Linked DNA regions of Homo sapiens: region 1 is linked to region 2. Evidence: fine-mapped expression QTL. A gene starts in region 2. The other region holds a variant in brackets. All regions are shown on one strand. Distances are between the middles of the regions.

The links. PIP is the estimated chance that this variant, and not a neighbour inherited with it, causes the effect.
Region 1: its variant is fine-mapped to the expression of CRACD in nasal epithelium (TOPMed, PIP above 0.99).

Annotation. Positions count from the first base shown.
Region 1 is chr4:56,186,084-56,188,996 of GRCh38, forward strand. All of the region lies in intron 2 of CRACD (capping protein inhibiting regulator of actin dynamics), which reads left to right. Among named protein-coding and RNA genes, the nearest start is that of CRACD, 140 kb to the left of the region's middle. The variant C/T (reference allele first, on the strand shown) is at 1,756.
Region 2 is chr4:56,047,613-56,050,525 of GRCh38, forward strand. CRACD (capping protein inhibiting regulator of actin dynamics) reads left to right here and starts at 1,486. Exons shown (of 11, transcript NM_001393381.1): 1 at 1,486-1,687. RefSeq lists a silencer at 1,212-1,851 and an enhancer at 1,382-2,057.

The DNA of each region.
Region 1 (2,913 bases), 140 kb after region 2:
TCTCCATCTGCCAGACGTAACCCAAGATGAGTTGCACAGATGAAGCTGGCAGAGAAATGGGAAACTGGATGGCAAATGAGGTTCTGAGGGAAGCAAAATTCTAGCTAAATCCTTTTGTGATGGTAGAAGAGCTCTTGGTCTAATAATACAGAACTTAAGAATTAGGTTGGTGTAGTGCTAGTGGTTCAGCAAATGCAACCTGTCTGCAAGTCTCTTTCCTGTAGACTTCCTGGGAGTGTAGTGTTTATGAACAGGTGCCATGGGACCACAGTTAAACACAGGACAAACGATGACTTGTCTCCATCAAATGTGATTGTTGTATACTGTACTATATGCTAGGGAGGACTGAATCATCAACTCTATGCTCTAAGATATCTCTTCCAGGAGCTTGAAAACACCAACTTTAGAGTAACTAGTTTGACAAGAAATAGCAGAGAGATGGGGATGGGGTAGGGGCATTTTGTTGATTCCTTTCCTCTTCCCTCCCTCCATTAACATGCATGGAACTTTTTACATGCCAGACATTGTGCTGAGGGGTGAGGATATGAAGTAAGCATACTGTTCAGGAGTTCATGGTCACTTCCTCCTTCCTGTCACCTCTCTGCTGCCTCAGGTTCTCCTGCTCTTAACAGAGAACTGTAAGTAGTTGTATCTTGTCTGTCCTCCATGATAGGATGTAGCTTCTAAAAGCCAGGGGGCCAGGCACGGTGGCCCATGCTTGTAATCCCAGCACTTTGGTAGGCCATGGCGGGAAGACTGCATGAGCCCAGGAGTTCAACACTAGCCTGAGCAACATAGTGAGACCTCATCTCTAACCACAAATTTTTAGAAAATTAGCCAGGCATGATGGCGCACCCCTGTGGTCCCAGCTACTCACAGGGAGACTGAAGTGGGAGGATGGCTTGAGCTTAGAGGGTTGAGCCTGCAGTGAGCCATGATCATGCCACTGCACTCCAGCCTGGGCAACAGAGCAAGACCCTATCCAAGAAAAAAAAAAAACAACCAGAGGCTTTGAATTTGCCATTGAACCTTTGAATCTAGCATTGCCCTAGCAAATACTTAGGGCATTGCAATGGGAATTGAATTTTATCAAATTGAATTCAGATATGTAAACAGATAACCGGGTGAAGTGTGATTAGTGATATTTGAGAGAGTTTTGCACAGAGTGCTGGGGAACACAAAGGGCAGCATAAACAACTGCCACAGGGAGCCTGCGGGCCTCCCAGAGGTGTCATTCGAGCTGTCTTGAAAGATGAGAAGGTGCTTGCCAGACACTCGAGGGGGGCACACAATCTCCGCAGGTCACATTTATGTCAACGTGTTTCTTAAGAGAGGCCCTTGGATCCTCTAAATCCTGTCGTTTCTTTCATTTATGTAACTTTAGAAAAATGAATGCTTGATTTACCAGCAGCTTTGGATCAAGCCTATAGACTGTACAGGCTTCTCTTCCAGCAAACGATCATCTTAGTACTTCTAGGGGATAAAGCCAAAAAATACCCCAAACCAACCAAACAAACAAACAACAACAAAAAAGCTATTGAATTTATTACCCCTACAATGTCCATTTTAATCTTCTTTTTCCTTATTAAAATAAATAAATTTTTTTTTCTTCTAAATTGGCCCAAGTGAAGCCAAGATTTCGTTCCCATGATCCTTTCATCATTTCAACAGACGCACACTGAATGCCTCCCACGGATAAGGCACTGCTCCGGACTCTAGGCTGACAAAGAACAAACAGCAAGACAGTTTCTGCTC[C/T]CACGGAGACCAAAAATTGACACCAAACAGAAAGCTAAAGTCAGCATGGAAAATGTCCTCCACTACTGTTTACTGTTAAAGCATAATCTATTGTTTACATACATGCACACAGATTAAGTGTTAAGCTTCTTGAAATAAATGACTAATTCTGAACTGCAGTTCAGAGGTCCAAGGAACGATGAAGAAGGCTATCCTATGACTGGAAGATTTACCAGGAAAAGGAAAAAGCATCCTTAGTCTAAACTTCACTGGGCACATATTTTAAGAAGCCTCAGAAAGTTCATTCCATGCAGAAAAACATCCCCCAAAAGGAGCATTTAAAACAGAACTTAAATTTTATATTAAGGACTTGGATATGTATATGTATTTTCAAAAATCGATATCATTTTATTTTCATTTCTTTATGGTGAATTTTGATGTTTTACTGTCATAGAACTGGAACCCCAATTTCTAATAATTCTTATTATTGGTCTAATAATATAGAACTTAAGAATTAGGAGACAAGGACATAGTTTACCAAGGCTTGACATGCTTGGCCCATCTAGGAACTACTTAGTGCTTGAGTTGGGGAGGGCCTATGATAGATGAGATTGCTCACCCTGATGCTGCCAATTCCAAATGCCCATCTTCTCTTCTCCATCTCTTCTGGTCAATAGCTTAGCTGTCCTTAAAGGATAAATTCAACACCAACCCAGTTTATTCTCTGATACCTCCCGTTCCTGGAAATGAGTGTTTTATTTTTTCCCTCCAGACTCCTACAGCAGCTCATTTGTATCTGTCTAGCCTCTCTCTCTCTCTCTCTCTCTCTCTATCTCTCTATTTCTCTCTCTCTCTCTCTCTCTCTCTCTCACACACACACACACACACACACACAGAGAGAGAGAGAGAGAGAGAGAGGGGTTAACATTTTCCACCTGGCTTATAATTTTTGGTAAATATGTCATATCCCCTACTAAGTGACCACCTCCTTGGAGTCAGTGCTATTTTCCTTCATTTCTTTATATCTCATTTCCTCCACCCTCATCTGAATACCTATCTCTAAACCATAATGGGCTGGGTGCGGTAGCTCACGCCTGTAATCCCAGTACTTCGGAAGGCCGAAGCGGGTGGATCACTTAAGAATGTGCATCACCTAAGGAGTTCGAGACCAGCCTTGCC
Region 2 (2,913 bases):
ACTCCCGATCTCAGGTGATCCGCCTGCCTCGGCCTCCCAAAGTGCTGGGATTACAGGCATGAGCCACCGCGCCCGGCCGGCTTCTGGGAACTTCTAACGCTACTAAACTCAAATCAAAAGAAATTTGCTCAACCCTTTCTAAAACTCTGCATTATTCTAATTTGGAATAAAGCAGACATAGTTTAGGATATGTGCACACTGAACTAAGTATCTATATTCACGAAAATACAAAGCCATATATTATACTGATATTTAACTTAAATGTTTATCTAGAATAAACCAGTTGGATAAGGTAACATGCACTAGATTCTCCCAGTCTCAAGGTTGCTCCTTTAAGTCATGCAGTGAAATTACTAGTCCTTGGCCAATAAGGTGAAACCTCGTCTCTACTAAAAATAAAAACAAAAATTAGCTGGGTGTGGTGGCGGGCGCCTGTAATCCCAGCTACTCAGAGGGAGACTGTGGCAAGAAAATCGCCTGAACCCGGGAGTTGGAGGTTGCAGTGAGCTGAGATCGCGCCACTGCACTCCAGCCTGGGCAACAAGAAACTCCGTCTCAAAAAAAAAAAAAAAAAAAAAAGAAAAGAAATTACTAGTCCTATTTTTGGCATTTGGGACATCTGGCTCAATACTGGGTATAATTTAGGGCTATCTTTCGTATTTTGCATCTTTTGTCTAGTCATTTTGCTTTAAAATTTCCTGTTTAATAATGATATTCAATTATTTTTAGCATCCTTGCATACATAGTAAACTAAAAAGATCACCAGAAACTGATTTCCAGTAGTTGCACTGGCATAGTCACAACAAAAAGTATGAAGGAAAAGTCTTGTTTTCTTCGTTAGCCCACAAAAGGAGAAGTCATTTTCCTTAAAGCATCAAAATCAATATTTAATTTCATTATGGCTGGGGACAATAATGCACATTGTCAATGTCACTCCGTTCGGATGTACAGGGACTCAGCAATGCAATTTCTAGCCTTTCTATTTCTAGGTGGCATTTTCCAACTTACTCAACTCTCAGGAGTCCCAGTGCCATTTATTGTGGTTGGGACTCTGCAGGGCGAAACTTCTCCTGGGCTCCCGGTATCTCCTATTAGAGAGACTGCTGCGGGTAACAGGGACCGAATTTGCAACCTGTGGGGTGGTGACTGATGGTCCAATGTTCTCGCCACACGCAGGATGAGCCTCGCTGTGAGCCCACCACTGTAACCTCAGACCCCACGAGTTCAGCACTCCCTCGAGTCAGGCTTTGCAGAAGCCGGGAGGGCACTGGTCAACCCCACGCCCCTCCTTGGGGCCCGCTCCTGGTTTCTGGGCACCCCTGGGGAGGGGAGCCATCTGGTGTGCGCCACTCCCGGAGGGCGCGAGAAGGAAGCCGGCGCCTCACGCTCAGCTGTCCCTGGGCGAAGCCGGGCGGGGCGGCGGCGCGGGTCCGAGCGCCCGAGGCGCCGGCGGAGCATGTGACCACGCCGCGCGGGGCCGGGCGCGCAGTGCCGCGCGGTGGCGGCAGTGGGGAGAGCAATGGAGGCCACGGCCGACTGAGAGGCGGGTGCGCTGCTGGTGCTGCTGCCGCGGCGGCTGCTGATGCGGAGGCTGCCGCGCGCAGTGCCGCCGAGTCCGCCGCCCGCCCGGGACCGCCGGTCGCCGGCCAGCCGCTCTGCCAGCCGGAGCGCCAGGCGGGGACCTCAGGTGAGCGCCTGCTCGGCCCGCGGCCGGAGCCAGACAATGGGGACAGGGGCGGGCTTCTCTCCTCCACTCGCGCCCCTCCGGGCCGGGCCCCCGCAGCGCCCCGGGACTCCAGGGGACCTGGCCCCGGGGGCGTGGGCTCGGCGCGGCGGGCGGTGGGCTTCGGGGCGGTGTCCCCATGTGGGAGGCGCGGACCCTCCCGGAGGAACCTGCGCGCGGCTTGCGCGCTTTGGATCCCCGCAGGGGAACCTGCCGCCGGGCTGCACCCCGGGAACTTGCGGAGAATATGGGACCTCGCCTGCCTTCTCCTCTTCCCGCGCCTCGCCATCCTGTCCCCAGGTCCCTGGCTCGGTCCCGACCGCGGCAAGGGCCAGAACCAGACCTCACCGTCCGGGATCGCGGACGCCGTCCGGGCTCAGCCCTCTCCCCACCGCCCCCGGAGCTGCATTGCTTTGTTTAACCTCTGCCAGACCGTTTCGCACAAACTCTTGTTGCCCCAATTCTGATGAGCCACCAGTTTGATAGCTGAGGCAAGACAAAGGTTTCCCCTGTTTACCAAGGGCCGGGGCCAGGAGACTGCGCGCTGCCCGTGGTGTAAAATCTGTTTTCTTTATCTTCGCCCGGGGCTTGTTGCGATGGTTTTCCTGGCACTATAACCGTCCTTTCTTGCAGAGCTCTGTAGTGGCGAGATTGGACCTCCTAACCCTACGGATACGGTGGGTGGGGTATGGCTTTTTTTTTTTCATGATTATCAGTAAACAGAAGCCGACTTTGAATTTTATAATATGTGTTCTTGAGTTAGAGACATCGTAATCATTTTCTGAATTCTGAATTTTAAGAGAATATATATTTCAAGACACATTGATTCAGTGGAGGGGGAGGGGGAAGAAAACCTAGTAAGTACGACCATGTGTTGTGAAATTTTAATATGGTTTTAGGAATAATGGCTGGGAAACTGATCTGGTGTAGGTGAGGGAGTGTGTGTGTGTGTGTGTGTGTGTGTGTGTGTGTGTGTGTGTATTGGGGGTGGTAAGTGGTGGTGGTGGAGAGGGAGTGGTTAGAATACAAAGGATAAGGCAGTTTTAGAAAAAGATTCTTAGTAAATATCCTGTGGCAAATTTTTGATTCATTAAGTTGTGAGTTAAATCAATGTTTCCTTTAAAAATCACCTATAGTAATTGTGGAATTATATAAAAAATGGCTCACAGTTCTTTGGCATTGTTTGTGAC